2 separate regions of the Homo sapiens genome follow, and region 2 is linked to region 1. Evidence: fine-mapped expression QTL. Tissue or cell type: skeletal muscle. Region 1 holds a variant in brackets; the other region holds the start of a gene. All regions are shown on one strand. Distances are from middle to middle.

Region 1 (8,265 bases):
CTAATACTAGGTGCATTAGTTGGTGTTCTCCAGCAAAACAAAACTAATAGGAGATACAGATATCTACATATTTACATCTATGTATCTTTACCTATGTATCTATAGATACCTAGATATCTGTATCTCCCATTGGTTCTGTTTCTCCGGAGAACCTTAACCAACACACCTAGTGAGCCAGACAACCTTAAAATGCCTCAATACAGCCTCCAGGTAGCCATTCCCAATTAACATGCAAATTGAAATCATGCACATCCAAGCCTCTCTAGCAGCTAGCTGAGTCCACAGGGCTGAGCACCTCCACTTCCCTGCACTGTAGGCTCCTTCAAGGATTAGAGAACTGCCCTGGACCCCAGCATTCCAGGCAAGGTCTCACATGAATTCTAAGTAGCATGTGTTCCCTACCTTTTATTCTTGTTGAAGGGGAGGGCAGTCAATGAGGCTGTAAGTTTCTCTTGTCGCATAAAGTAAAACTATTAAAAATGCCTTCTAAATAAGGGGAATATCAAGGCACTATCTTTTAAATCAGAGCCAGGCCATCATAGTAGAAGGAGGGGTGATGGGAAGGCACCAACCACTCATCCTTCTCACAGGTCTTCAGAAGAATAATGCGGCATCTGTCGATGGCCACCAGGAGTGCAAAACCAACCTGGATTTCTTCCAGATTCTGTGATTCTGAGCATCATAAGATTCACGTCATGTTTAATTTGAAATTACTGTGGTTAAGAAAAAGGTACCCAGAAATAACTCCACACATACTTGCCACCCTGACGTACAGCGTCCAGAAAGGGAGGTTTCCCCTCCAGCAGCCCCACTTGTTAACCATGTGATCTCAAGCCCACCTCACCTTCTGGAGCCTCAGTTTCTTTATCTACACAGAAGACCTACTTGGGAACACCTCCTTGAGGCACATCATAGGCCTCCAATAAACAGGCGCTATGAGAATTAGGGAGAGCAGCAGTCCTAGAATCTGAGTTGAAAGACTTGGAGCCGGGCGGGGCCAGGCAGCCAGAGGGGAGGTGGGGCGGAGCAGGCAGTGGGAGTCCCAGGGCAGGCACAGCAGCAGGCTCAGCAGCTGAACAGACAAAGGGACAGTCCCCCTCCCTTGCTGCCAGCGAGGAGGCCAGAAGGGAAGACAAGGTAAGACTGACCTTGAGGGCAGGGATCTCCACACTGTCACCGAGGCTGATGGAGCCTGAAAGGATGGTCCCTGTCATCACAGTGCCTTGGCCTTTGATGGAGAAACAGTGGTCCACAGACATGAGGAACGGTCCCGAGGGATCTCTCGTTGGGATGGAAATCTGGGACGTCAGGAGCTAGAAAAGAGAAACTGGTGCCACAGTCCGTGGGGAGAGGAGCCAGATGGGGCAGGGCAGAGGAAGGCAGAGAATGTGGCTGACCAGCAGTTCATCAAGGCTGCCAAGGTGAACTCAGCTCAGAGGTCCATGCCCTGGCAAGGTGGACAGGAGATCAAAACCACCTAACTCCCTGACTGCATTCCAAGCTTCTGCCATGCTCTCAGCTCTTTCCGCTCAGTCTGAAGGAAAGGGCACCTGGAGAAGCCTCGTCTGTCTTCTCCCGTGGGACTGCTACAATGGTCTGTCCTGCCAGGCCCTCCATGCTGCAGGAGAGTAGCCACTAAAGGACACCCTGTCGCATTGCTCCCTGGCCTCATGCATTTCCCCAGCCTCCTGATGCCTTCAGAATTTAAAACTCCTCATCATCTAGCCCCTAGGTACCTTTTAGGCCTCATCTTCCGCCACTCCCTGACGTATGCCAGAAGCCAGCCGCCAGCAGGCCTAGAGTTTTACCAGCTGGCTGAGCCTCGCCTGTACTGCAGCAATACCTCCTCTGGACAGGCTTCTCTGTATGGCCACGTTTCCCCTGCCCCCATCACTATAGCTAACACTCTCCTGTGATCATCTCTTTATTATCTCCCCCATAGGGCTGTGAGAGCCAGGTATCTCCAGTAGCTGGCATCATGCCTGAGAGAATGACAAGTGAAAGAAGAAGAAACAAGGGGATGTGGGGAGAGGGAGGAGGAAAGGATTGTTCCCAGGGTCCTTCCTTCTCTGCGGACTCCACACGCCTCAGCCTCACCAGCCGATTCTCCTCATGCCACCTGTGTGCCGGGAGATGCTGTCAGGGCTCATCACCAATAAACAAATGAAAACAAAGACTAGGATTCCTTGTGTTTGCTACTTTTTCACTTCGTAAGGGAACAGGCTGTCAAAAAAGTATTCAGTGGTGAATGTTCCAAAGTCTTAGTCTTGTGATAACAATTCTTTTGGAAAAACACTAGAGATTCAAACAAAACAGGCTTGGTCTGAGATTTATGTAGGGGCTTCTTAAAGGAATATACAAACATCTTTCAAAGCAGCATTTTTGAGGATTTCGCTTTAACAAAAACAACTATCCCAGGCTCCCAGACAAGTGCTCTCAGGAGCCTGATGAAAAAGTAACAAAAGCCTCACCCAGAAAACATTTGTTTTGCTAAGCTGACAAGATCAGCACGTGTAAATCACAGAAATGGTGGCAGTGCATGTACGTGGTCACATCTCATCTTGGCTCTGCGGAGCCAGGTGCAGGGGGGCCGTGAAGCTGACCCCAGCGATCAACCTGGGTCTGAATCCCAGCTCCACCGTGTAACTCGCTGCCAGACATGGGTCAAGTTATTTAACATCTTTGAATCTCAGACTCTTCGTTGGTATATGGGGATAAATAATTTCAGCCTCCCTGAGTTTTTGTGAATGTCAATGATCCTGTATGTAAAGAACTTAGTACAGTGCCTGGCCTGTAAACATCAACATCACTGTAACAGTAAGCACTGACATGGCACTGTACCGAGCACATTATACACATTAACTCATTTAACCCTCACAACTCCACGAGGTATGTGCTATTATCTTCCAAGTGAAGGAACTGAGGCAAGAAAGAGTAGATCATTTGCCTGAGGTCAGAGAGAGTGGTGGTGGAGCTAGCCCCTGAACCACAGTCCAGCCCCAGAGCCATGCACGTTGCTACTCCACCCGGCTGAACTGTCCTGAGCACTCTGTGGAGGAACTCTGTGGCTCCATTCTCACTGCTACCTTCCTTAGTACCAGCACCATCAGCACCCACACACACCCTTCCTGATGGATGACTGGGCTCCCTCCCTGACTACCAGCACAAGTTAGGAAGAACAACCTGGGCCTCAGCCCCACAGCTTCCGAAGATAAGCCTCCCATCTTTGGTGGAGGTGCCCAGGATGGAAGCTGCATTGCCCCTGCTGTTGGGCTCATGTCTTTCACCCCTGCCTCACTGGCCCCCAGCCCAGGTGGGGTACTGGAGGAGCTGATACAGTCTGAAGGACTGGAATGGATGTCACGGTCCCAGGGTTCCAGATGGGTGGGAGCTGCTTTGTCTGAGTGTAGGTATGACAAGAGAAAGGAGAAAGTGAGGCACAGCAAGGTGTGACGAGCTCTGCAGAGTTTATGGCTGGAGGGTGAATCATGGGCTTCAGTGAACCTTAGGAGTCCTAGTTTGGGTCTACCTTTTTGAGGGAGGTGGGGGAGTTGTGCTAAGGTGTTAACAGGGAGGTTAATGGAACCAACTGAGTCCTCTTGCTAGGGCTGCCTCTCTTTCTCTCTCAGGGGAGAGAGGGACACAAAGGGGCTGGCCTGAGCAGCGCTGGGGCTAAAGGGCAACCTGGATTCAAGATGACAGTACCTCAATGAGCTCTGGAATGCCCTGTGGAGCTTCAGTTTCGGGGGCCTCTGGTCCCCCCGGCTTGGCCGCCAC[G/A]GGTATAATCGGTGCACCTCGGAACCTGAAATGGAAAATAAGTCCCATCACAGTTACAGAGATCAGCAACATGGACACAAAGCACGTCCATGAAGCACCTGGCACAGTACCAAGTGCAGTGAGCATCCTCTTCTCTCCCCACATCAACCAAGCCTAGAAGACAGCACCACTGTACTAGCACATGGCACATGATGCAATGGAGGCCCCAAATTTCCCCGTCTGGGGGAAATGTCCCTGCATTGGACATCAGAATTTTAAAGGGCTCTCTTAGATATTAACCTCCACTTTCAGAGCACTCCCTAAGGAGGCAGCAGTGATCCTGGCCCCTAGGCTTCTGAATAAAAGACCTCCTTGAAGAAGACCAATAAATACATCTCAGCCTTCTGAAGAGATGCAAGAAATAATAGTGACCAAAAAGTATCTGCAGATGTACCTGGAAGCACGCCTCTACAATCTCAGTTTCTAATGCAGAGCATTCTTGCCTAAACTCTACTAGCAAAGCCCCCGCATCTTTAAGAAGACATACTTATTCTGTGTGGACATTTATCTTTCCCATTTAAAAAAAGGAACATTGTTAGGGCAAAAAAAAAAAAAAAAAAAAGAGGGAAAGAGAAAATAAATAACCCATAATCCCATCATTTGGTGTATTTTCTTCCAACCATGGTTTTCCCATGCTTTGCCAAGGGATTCTTTTTTTCAGATTTTGGTTATAGTATGTATACGATTTCATATCCTGCTAATTTATTTACCATTATATCACAAAGAACTTTCTGTTGAATGACAGCAACAACAATAACAACTTACATGGCTGAGCCAAGCCTATAATGTGAGGTTTAAATGAAAGCATCTACAACACATGATGGAGTTGTTGCCATCTTATAGATGAGAAAATGAGGCTTAGGGAGTCTAACTGATTTGCTCCAAGTTGTTGGCTATAAACCTTAGAGCCACATTTGAACCCAGCCCATCTGAGTCTGAAGCCAGGGCTCTCAGTCTCTTTGTCACACTTCTCTCCACCTGGGCCTGTTCTTTCATTGTTGACACCTGGACAATGGTACGACCCAGAATTTACATGCTTGTACATGCTTTCCTCCATTACTTATTTGTGATATTTCAAATTTTTCACTATTATAAATTACACTGTGATAAACATGTCAGCGGGCATGAATGTTTTTTTTTTTTTTTTGCCTTGGCTGTGGGATGAATTCGTGGGGTACACATCTAAGAGTGAATACTCACTAATAGATCAGCAAAATGATACAGCAAGGACATCTGAAAAGCCCTCTTCCATGGAAACAAAGAACACTGGCAAAAATGATCAGAATCAACTTGTTCAGAACTCTGGAAATTAACCAAAGGCTTGAGCAATCTGTGGAGTGTTTATTCAAGAAGAGTCTCAGTAAAACCAAGTGAGCTTTTGATGTTTTAACTTGCCCTCTTCCTATGCTAACTCTGCAGCTGTCCTGAAAACCAATCATGGTGAAAACCAGTAGCATGCCAGGCACTGAAAGGGGCAGAATGGGTTTGAGCTCCTTCAAAGCCCTTCTTCCAGAGAACGATCATGATTTTCCAGTCTGGTGGCTCCCTGGAAGGCCCTACTCACAATGCTATATTTATTTGACCTGCCTTGGAGCTTGCTTAGTGCAAATAGCCTTTTCCCTGGGGGAGTTTGTTGAAAATAATCAGAGGCAATTGTTTAACATCACAGCTGCCTGAGGGAAGCTGTGATATTTAATAGCCAAAAACTTCTCAAATTTCATGGAAAATATCTACACTTTCAAGAATCTCAATAAACTCTAAATAGGATAAACTCAAAGACACCCACACCTGGCACATTACAATCTAACTGTTGAAGGCCAAAGACAAAGAGAATCTTGAAGCCATCAAGAAAGAAGCGACTGAACTCATGTACAAGGAATCCATAATAAGATTTGCAGCTGGTTTCTCAGGAGAAATCGTGGAGGCCAGAAGGTATCAGGATAATATATTCAAAGAAGTGAAAGTTAAAAATAAAAATAAAAAAAATCTACCAACCAAGAATTTTATATGCAGTAAAAAATGTTACAAAAATGAAGGGAAACATGGGATCACCACATGATCCAGCTATTCCACTCCTAGATATATATCCAAAAAGAACAGAAAACAAATACTCAAAGAAGTACATATCCATACATGTCCAGAGTAGCACTATTCACAATAGCCAAAAAGTAGAAACATCTCAAATGTCTATCAATAGATGAATGGATACACAAACTATGTTGTGTATATATACACAACAGAATATTATTCTGTTGTGACATAAAAAGACATGACATAAAAAGACATGAAGCATCAATACATACTTCAGTGTGGATGAACCACAAAAACACTGTGCTAGGTGAAAGAAGTCAGACACAAAAGGTTGCATATTGTGCAATTCCATTTATATGAAATACCAGAATAGGTAAGTCCATAAAACAGAAAGGAGATTAGTAGTTCCCAGGCTGGTGGCGCACAGAGAATGAGGAGCAAAGGGCTTAATGAATACAATTTCCTGTTGGGGTAATGAAAATGTTCTGGAATTAGATAGTGGTGATGGCTGTACAATTCTTTCCACATTGAAAGTATGAATTTCATAGTATGTGAATTCTATCTCAATTACAGAGAAAATAGATTGAAAGGTATGCTACCTTTTCCACTACCACAATGGACATCTAAGATGCCTATTTCACTGCACACATAACAAAATAGTCTTTTAAAAATTATTTTTAATATATACTTCATTTTAATTTGTATTGCATTGCCTTAATAAGTAAGCCATACAATATTGAACCACTTCCAATTGTTTGTATACCCAATGTATTTTCAGGAGACATTTCTGTAGCACTTCTAGTTCTGGAGTTTGTTTCCGCCAGGAAGAGCCACCCTTACCTTCCTGACACTGAGGCTTGCTCTAAGTGCTTCTCTGTATATAGTCTAGCATGCAACACAGTGGGAGTGGCAGAAAGAGACAGGACCTTTTACCGAGCACCAATGGTACAAGCAATTGTGCTAGAAGCTTTCCAATCCCCATCTTCTCATCACAATCCTGAAAGGTGGGTATTATTCTTCCTCCCCCTATTTCATAGAAGAGGGTCCTAAAAGTTTGGCTAGCTTTGGTAGCTTGTTCCAGGCCACAGGCTAATGAGTGGTGGGGCTGTGATTTAAAGCCAACTCTGAGTTTACTTTAAACCTGAGACTATCATGAGAACAATCCTCCATCAGCCTAGGTTGGAGGCAGGGGCATGTGTCCCTTCTCAAATCCATATGAGAATTTGGAAAGCAGCTGATCTTCAAGGATCAGGGAACATATATTTAAGTCCTGTAGCCAGATTAATAAAACCCTTGCCCTTAATTACATACATTAAATATATGTAATTTTAGTTCTCAAACCAACGAAAAAACGATATGATAGCTATAATTATAGTACCCAATACTATGACAGTTTGCTATCACTTTCAAATTGCAGACATAAATTTATTGAATTCTTAACAACCCTCTAAGGTAGGAAGAACTTCTGTCATCATTCCCATATTCAGAGTCACACATTCATTCTCCAAATATTGGTGAAGCACCCACCATGCACACAGCACCTGGCTAGATGCTTTCACATGACTCCATTTAATCCTCACAGCAATGATGTCAGGTATTATATTATCATTTTAGAGATGAGGAAACTGAGGCACAGAGAGGTCAAATGATTGCTAAAGGGTCGCAGGTGAAGCAAATAGCAGAAGCAAGGAGGAATCCAGAGCTCAGCACTCTGGTCCCAAAAGCCCTATTCCAGAGCCCTGTCCTTCCCACGGTGCTGGGATCCCCAGAATGACCTCCAGCATCCACTCCCCAGGGACACTGACCTGGAAGATGGCATCAATGGTCTTTCAAAACACAAAAGCAGAAGATTGAGCCCAGTGCCAGCCTGGGCACAAAGAGGGGATGACAAAACATCAAGGTCGCTCTGCTCCCTCCCTTCCTCCTCCTCTCTCAGGGTTGACCTGCACATAGACCAATTGTCCCACATCCTCTTCACAAGCTTTGTCAAATTTGTGTGCCATCTAAGCTATTTGCTCATTTATTTTCCTTAAAAGAATTAATGTTCTTACTTAAATATATTTATTTTAAAACGCAATTTCATGCCACTATCTAAATGGAAAACCACCACATTCCACAAATAAAAGGTAGAGTAGAAGCCCTCCCACCACTGGTCACTTTAAGGACATCCATGAGGCAACGCTCTGCACTCCCTCTGCAAAACCTGCTCCTGGCTCCTAGCATGCCAAACCTCCATGCTGGGGGGGGACAGCTTGACGCGCACAGGCCACGCTCAAGAGGTGAGTACTTCCTGCACTTTTGCCTCCTGACCTTTATGCTGAACCTGGTTATGCTGTAAAGTTGGTAATGCCCGTTATAAGCTTCACTGTAACAACATAATTTAATTTAGTATTATGAAACAACAGTGTGAAAATAGCT
Region 2 (8,000 bases), 110 kb after region 1:
ATAAGACAATGAAGTTTGCCACATCAGGTGACTCTTCCTTTTACAAAAATTTATCTGTAGCATGTGAAGCTGTTTGATGGCATTTTACTCACAGAATTGCTTTCAAAACTGGAGTCAGTCCTCTCAAATCTTGCCACTGCTTTATCAACTAAGTTTATGTAATATTCTAAATCCTTTGTTGTCATTTCAACAATGTTTACAGCATCTTCACCAGGAGTAGGTTCCATCTCAAGAAACTACTTTCTTTGCTCATGCACAAGAAGCAACTCCTCATCCACTCAAGATTGATCATGAGATTGTAGCAATTCAGTCATATCCTCAGGCACCACTTCTCATTCTAACTCTCTTGCTATTTCTACCACATCTGCAGTGACTTGCTCCACTGAAGTCTTGAACCCCTCAGTCATCCATGAGGGTTGGAATCAACCTCTTCCAAATTATTGTTACTGTTGATATTTTTACCTCCTCCCATGAATCACAAATGTTCTTTATGGCATCTAGAATGATAAATCCTTTCCAGAAGGTTTTCAATTTACTTTGTCCAGATCCATCAGAGGAATTATTATCTTGGGCAGCTATGGCCTTATGAAATATATTTCTTAAATAATAAGACCTGAAAGTCAAAATTACTCCTTGACCCATACACTGCAGAATGGATGCTGTGTTAGCAAGCATGATAACAAATTAATCTCTTTGTACATCTCCATCAGAGCCATTAGGTGACCAGGTGCATTATCAACAATCAGTAATATTTTGAAAGGAGTATTTTTTCTAAGCAGTAGGTCTCAACAGTGGGCTTAAAATATTCAGTAAACCATGCTATAAACAGATGTGCTGTCATCCAGGCTGCGTTGTGCCATTTCAAGAGCACAGGCTGAATAGATTTAGCATAATTCTTAAGGGCCCTAGGATTTTTGGAATGGTCAATGAGCAATGGCTTCAGCTGCATTAGCCCCTAACAAGAGTCAGCCTGTCCTTTGAAGCTTTGTACCCAGTCATTGACTTCTCTGTAGCTATGAAAGTCCTACATAGCATCTTCTCCATATAAGGCTGTTCCATCTACAGTGAAAATCTGTTTAGTGTACTCACCTTCATCAATGATCTTAGCTAGATCTCCTGGATAACTTGCTGCAGCTTCTCTATCACCATTTGTTGTTTCATCTTGTACATTTATGTTCTGGAGATGGCCTCTTTCCTCAAACCTCATGAACCAACTTCTGCTAGCTTCAAACTTTTCTTCTGCAGCTTCCTTACCTCTCTCAGCCTTCATAGAATTGAAGAGTTAGGGCCTTGCTCTGGATTAGGCTTCCACTTAAGGGAATGTGGTAGCTGGTTTGATTTTCTATCCAGACCACTAAAACTTTCTCTATAAAGCAATAAAGCTGTCTTGCTTTCTTATCATCTGTGTGTTCACTACAGTAGCACTTTTAATTTCCTTCAGGAACTTTTCCTTTGCGTCCAAAACTTTGCTGTTTGGTGTGGTGTAAGAGGCCTTGCTTTCAGCCTATCTCAGTCTTCAACATTGCCTTCATCACTAAGCTTAATCATTTCTAACTTTTGATTTAAAGTGAGAGACTTGCAACTCTTCCTTTCCCTTGAACGCATAAAGGCTATTAGCTGGATGAATTTTAATATTGTTGTGTCTCAGGGAATAGGGAGGCCTGAGGAGAGGGAGACAGACAGGGAAAAAGCCAGTAGGTAGAACAGTCAGAAAACACACAACATTTATTAAGTTTGCTGCCTTACATAAGCATTGTTTGTGACATTTCAAAATTACAATAGTAACATCAAAGATCACTGATCCCAGATCACCATTAACAGATGACATGTGTTTGAAATGAAGTGAAATGTTTGATGCTTAATATTTGATGAAAAGTTTGAAATATTGTTAAGAATAACCCAAATGTGGCATAGAGACACAAAGTAAGCAATGCTGTTGGATGGGTTGCCTTGAACCTTCGATTTGTAAAAACCACTATCTGCAAAGTACAATCAAGTGAAGCACAATAACATGAGGTATGCACGTATGTTGGAAGCGGATGAGGGAACTATAGGGTAACCTGGGGAAGCATGCAAAGGACTCCAGCTTTGGAGTCAGGCAGACCTGGACTGTTTCACTAACTACCTGCCTCCCTAAGTCCCAATTTTCTCAACTATTAAATGGTAACCACCACGCTCCTTGCAGGGTTTGCCTGGTAAGCAGCAAATACACAAGAAAAGTCAAGCCAATAAATAGTTGTGTGGTTACCACTATCTTCCAGTTGGAGCAAGGTCCAGAATTAGGTTCAAACGTCATACAGCTAAGGAAGAAAGCAAGCTAGGCTTCAAGCCCAGTTTTGTCTGACTCCAAAAGTATGTCCTTCACCACTCATCTACCCTATTTACTAGACAACACTAAAAACTCGCCATCTCATTTTTTAACCTCTGCCTTCCACCTCCAGTCTGGACTGGCTCAGAGTCCATGTTCTAAAATGTACTTTGATGTGACCAAACAGAATTCAGTTATAAGGGGGCAGGGAGGAATGGGTAGAGAATTGTGTGCCCCTTGAAATTCACCTGACTGAAACATGGATTGAGGAGAAGACTTTAGATAGTGTGACCCTGAGCAAGTCCCTTCACTTCTTCAAACTTCTATTTCCTCTACTGTAAAATGGGGAAATGATCTCAGACTGCCTGTAACATGAAACAGTTGGGAGGTAACAAAGATGAAGTACTGTACTTAACAAGCTCACCATTATAGCTGGGACCCAGAATGCCCAGTGACCAATGAGGCCATCTGCCACCAAGCCAATTATCATCTGCCCAATATATATTCCCATGTGTGGCATACAGAATATTGCTGGAAGGAAACACAAGAAAATGGGAACAGAAAGGTAATCAGGTACTGGGGTCAGCAGTGAGAAGTATACTTCTTTAGCTATATACCCTTTTATACCATGTGTTTATATTATTGTATCATTTTTTCTAAAAACAAAACATGTTTTAAAACTCTATCCATATATTTAAGTGGAGTTAAATGGGTCTGGAAAAGTAATCCACAAAGGTATAATAATGGTCTTTTCAGCCAGGCACAGTGGCTCACACCTGTAATCCCAGCACTTTGGGAGGCCGAGGCATGGGGATCACGAGGTCGAGATCAAGACCATCCTGGCCAATATGGTGAAACCCCATGTCTACTAAAAATATAAAAATTAGCCAGGTGTGGTGATGTGCACCTGTAGTCCCAGCTACTTGGGAGGCTGAGGCAGGAGAATCGCTTGAACCGGGGAGAAAGAGGTTGCAGTGAGCCAAGATTGCACCACTGCACTCCAGCCTGGTAACAGAGCGAGACTCCATCTCAGAAAAAAACAAAAAAACAAAAAAACAAAAAACGGGTCTTTTCATTTGCAGAGATAGGAGGGGTACAGAATTTAGGACAGAGGAGTGGGTAAGGGAATGTTTGTCTTATTTGTGATGTTCTATTTCTTCACAAGTAGCATGTATTCATGTATTACATGTATAATTAAAAATTAATGGTACCTCTTTGTGGGGCATTTTGGCAGTACCCACCACGACCGAAAACACACATGCCCCTTGCCCCAGCCAGTTATTATCTATTATCCTACATATATGCGAACATACCAAAGAGTTCTGTTCTAGAATATTCACTGCAAAATGGTTTGTAAATACTGGAAACAGCATAAACGTCCATCATTAAAAGATTTGTTCAGAAAATGTTGGTACAGGCCGGACGTGGTGGCTCACGCCTGTAATCCCAGGACTTTGGGAGGCCAGGGCGGGCGGGTCATGAAGTCAGGAGTTTGAGACCAGCCTGACCAACATGGTGAAACCCGTCTCTACTGAAAATACAAAAAAATTAGCCGGGCGTGGTGGCGCGCGCCTGTAATCCCAGCTACTCAGGAGACTGAGGCAGGACAATCGCTTGAACCCAGGAGGCGGAAGTTGCAGTGAGCCGAGATCGTGCCACTGCACTCCAGGCTGGGCGACAGAACAAGACTCTGTCTCAAAAAGAAAAAAAAAAAAAGAAAAAGAAAATGTTGGTACAAGGGTGCAGTTGAATTCTATGTGAGCTTTAAAAAGAATGATGTAGCTTTGTGTACAGATATGGGGCACTCTCCAGACACAATGTTGAGTGAAATCGTGTCTAAAAGGATGAGGGAAAGAGGGATTTATACATACACACAGATATGCTTGTATTGACGTGGAGCCTTTCTGAAATGATATACAAAAACTGGTAGCAGCGGTTGGCTCTAGGAACGGGAATCAGACCAAATGACAGGTGAATGAAGACAGCCTTTGTATGTATACCCTTTTTGTAGCTTGTGAGTTTTCTTATTTTGAGTTTTCTTTACTTGACCATGTATTATAAACACATTTGGTAGGGATTTTTTGATTTTTTTTTTTTTTTTTTTTTAAGGAAGGCGCCTTGCAGCTCGGTTCTGCTGGATGGGAAAAGCTGAATCTCAAAGCCTCCGCTCACTTGCTGCGGAGCCCTAGGCAAGTCACGTCCGCCTCTTGGGGCGTCAGGAGCCCCACCAATGAGGTGGGGCGATTTCCCGTCCCGGCAAAGGCTCGAGCGAATTCGGACACGGGGCCCGGTCGCTCCGCCCGCGTCCCTGAGCCCGGCTCCCGCCCCGGCCCGCGCTCACCGCCGATGATGGTCCGGATGAGGGAGGCGTGCCCGGGGCAGTCGACCAGCGTGACCTGAAGCAGTGGCTCGCCGGGCTCGGGCTCGGCCTCGGGCGCTGCCTGGAACTCGGGCAAAGACGACCGCAGGCGCGCGGGCAGCGGCACCGAGAAGCACGAGAAGCCCAGATCGAGCGTGATGCCGCGCTCGCGGCTCTGCGGCTGCTTGTCAAAGGCGGCGGTGGAGGCTGTGGTGCTTAGCGCCCGCGCCAGCGCCGTCTTGCCGCTGTCGATGTGGCCCAGCACGCCCACGTTCACGTTCACCCGCCGCCCTGCCATGCCGCCGCCGCCGCCTCGGACACCCGCCCGGCCCGCCCCTCACCTCCCTCGGTAGTCGCCGCGGTCCGGCCCGTTAAGTTGCCCCCCCGTAACCGGCGCGCTGTGCACACCCGTTCCGGCCCGGAAGCTTCCGCCCTCCTGAGGCTCACGGGCACAGCCGAGCGCCGTGCTCCGAGTGGGTGGTCTAGGAACTGGAGGTCACCGTAGGCAGGGTTTCTCTCTCACGTGGCTCCTCCTGCCTGAAGCCTCTAGGAGCCCGAGATGGAGGGATCCTTCTGAGAAGTGAAGCCATTTGGACTTTCTGGGTGAGTGGAGACTTGGAGAACTTTTCTATAGCTATCAAGAGGATTGTAAAATGCACCAATCAGCGCTCTGTAAAACGCACCAATCAGTGCTCTGTAACATGCACCAATCAGCAGGATCCTAAAAGAAGCCAATCACAGGGAGGATTGAAAAAAGGGCGCTCTGATAGGACAAAAACGGAACATGGGGGGGCGAAGGGGGGCGGGGGGGGCGGGGTGGGCGGGGGGAAGACGGGGGCGGGGGGGGCGGGAAGACGGGGGCGGGGGGGAGGGCGGGGGGACGGCGGGGGGCGGGGGAGGGCGGGGGGACGTGGGGGAGGGGGCAAATAAGGGAATAAAAGCTGGCCACCCCCGCCAGCAGCAGCAACCCTCTCAGGTGCCCTTTCGCATTGCAGAAGCTTTTTGCTCTTCACAATAAATCTTGCTGCTGCTCACTCTTTGGGACTGTGCCATCTTTAAGAGCTTTAACACTCACTGCGAAGGTCCGCGGCTCCATTCTTGAAGTCAGCGAGACTAGGAACCCACTGGAAGAAACCAACTCCGGACACACTTCCAATCATTCATACATTTCAGCAAGATCTTACCAAGTGCCTGGTGGGTTCCGCTGGGCTACAGTGCCCGCTAATATTACATTCAGGGGGTGAGGGCTAAGTCAAACAATACAGCCTGAACCAGACCATTTCAGAGAGCGAGAAGTCTCCTAGGGAAAATAAAAGCTGAGATAAAAAGGAGCAGGAGAGGGAGGATGGACAGCTACCTAACTGTGGGTCAGGGAAGACATCTAGGAGTTGCTGTTTGAGTTGAAACTCCAGTGTTGAGAAGGAGCCAACCATGGGAAAAGATGGTTTGAAGATGGAAGAGGACAACATTATCTCTGACTCAGAAATTCTCACCCTGAGAGTCTGTAGCCTGGGCTTAGGAGAGGCCACAAACCTCTAAATTGAACGCACAATGTGTTGTGATGTGCTCTTGCTAGACAGAGGGTCGACAACTCTCACTAGATTCTGAAGTGTCTAGAACCACAAAAAAGGTTGTCAGCCATAGTCACCAACCAGAGGTAACAAACCTAAGTGTCTGCTCTGGCCAGGTGGTGGGTAAATCAAAGAAGAGAAGTTAAAAGAGTCTAAGATGACAGGGAGTGGTGGGGACCTGGGAGACCTGGAGAGCCCTTTTCCTGTGCAAAGAGGGAAGCCACTGCTCAGTCTCAGCCAGTGATACCAGGCAGGAATGCTAGCCCAACATTGCCTCCTCCTTCCATTTTTCTGGAGAAGAGAGTGTTTTTGTAACACTGTGGCGGTGGAGCACAAAGTTCACAGGATCTTACCTTTGCCCTCTGTGATGAGCCAGACCATGTGCGGATGTATTCATGCTTGCAGTAACTGCCTCCTTCGTTCCACCACTCTCCACTAGGAACAGAGTCCATGTCATAGACTGAATTGTGTCCCTCTCAAATTCATATGTGGACACCCTGACCCCCAGTGTGATAGTATTTGGAGATGGGACGTTTGGGAGGTTAGATGAGATCATGAGAGCGGGCCCTTGTGATGGGATTAGGGTCCTTACAAGAAGAGAACAGAATCTTTGTTTCCGTTTTCCCACCTTGCAAATAGGAAACTGTAAAAATACGCCTCCCATTAAAAAAAATCTAGTAGTAAAAGCAGTAAACGTATTTAAAAGGGAGGGTTAGTAAATAGGTAATAAGAGCTTTAGAGGCTTTATGTACCTCTGAGAAATATTTCAACTAACAAAGACTTTGTACAGGGCCTGGCTTCAAATAAACCTCATTTCTTACCTCTGTTTTAAACAGAATCCTGAAATGGTAATGAAAAGAAAAAAGGTTTGGCTGGGCACGGTGGTTCATGCCTGTAATCCCAGCACTTTGGGAGGCTGAGGCAGGCAGATCACTTGATATAGTTTATATATCTATATATAGAATATATATAGATTTTATATATAGATATATAGAGTATATATATATAGAATATATACAGTGTATATATAGAATATATAGAGTATATATAGAATGTATATAGAGTATATATAGAATATATATAGAATATATAGAATATATATAGAATATATATAGAATATATACAGAATATATATAGAATATATAGATATATAGAGAATATATAGAGAACATATAATATATATAGAATATATAGAATATAGAATATATATTATATATATAATATATAATATAATATATATAATATATATAGAATATATAATATATAATATATAGAATATATAATATATATAATATATAGAATATATTATATATATAATATAGAATATTATATTATATATATAGAATATATATATAGAATATATATATATAATATATAATATATAGAATATATATAGAATATATAATATATAGAATATATAATATATAGAATATATAATATATAGAATATATATAGAATATATAATATATAGAATATATAGAGAATATATAATATAGAATATATATAGAATATATAATATATAGAATATATATAGAATATATAATATATAGAATATATATAGAATATATGTATAGAATATGTATAGAATATATGTATAGAATATATACATAGAATATATATTCTATTAGTTCTGTCAAATATATATATTCTGTGGAATATATATATGGAATATACATATATACATATGGAACATACATATATACATATGGATGTATATTCCATACAATGGAACATACATATATATATATATAATGGAATATAT

Evidence for each region. PIP is the estimated chance that this variant, and not a neighbour inherited with it, causes the effect.
Region 2: it holds the start of EEFSEC, and the variant in region 1 is fine-mapped to the expression of EEFSEC in skeletal muscle (GTEx, PIP 0.93).

Annotation. Positions count from the first base shown.
Region 1 is chr3:128,257,665-128,265,929 of GRCh38, reverse strand. EEFSEC (eukaryotic elongation factor, selenocysteine-tRNA specific) reads right to left here. Exons shown (of 7, transcript NM_021937.5): 3 at 3,706-3,802; 4 at 1,149-1,313. Among named protein-coding and RNA genes, the nearest start is that of EEFSEC, 110 kb to the right of the region's middle. The variant G/A (reference allele first, on the strand shown) is at 3,778.
Region 2 is chr3:128,150,473-128,158,472 of GRCh38, reverse strand. EEFSEC (eukaryotic elongation factor, selenocysteine-tRNA specific) reads right to left here and starts at 4,992. Exons shown (of 7, transcript NM_021937.5): 1 at 4,650-4,992. The coding sequence starts at 4,965. It also overlaps a transcript of RUVBL1 not described here. RefSeq lists a silencer at 4,482-5,001 and an enhancer at 5,132-5,361.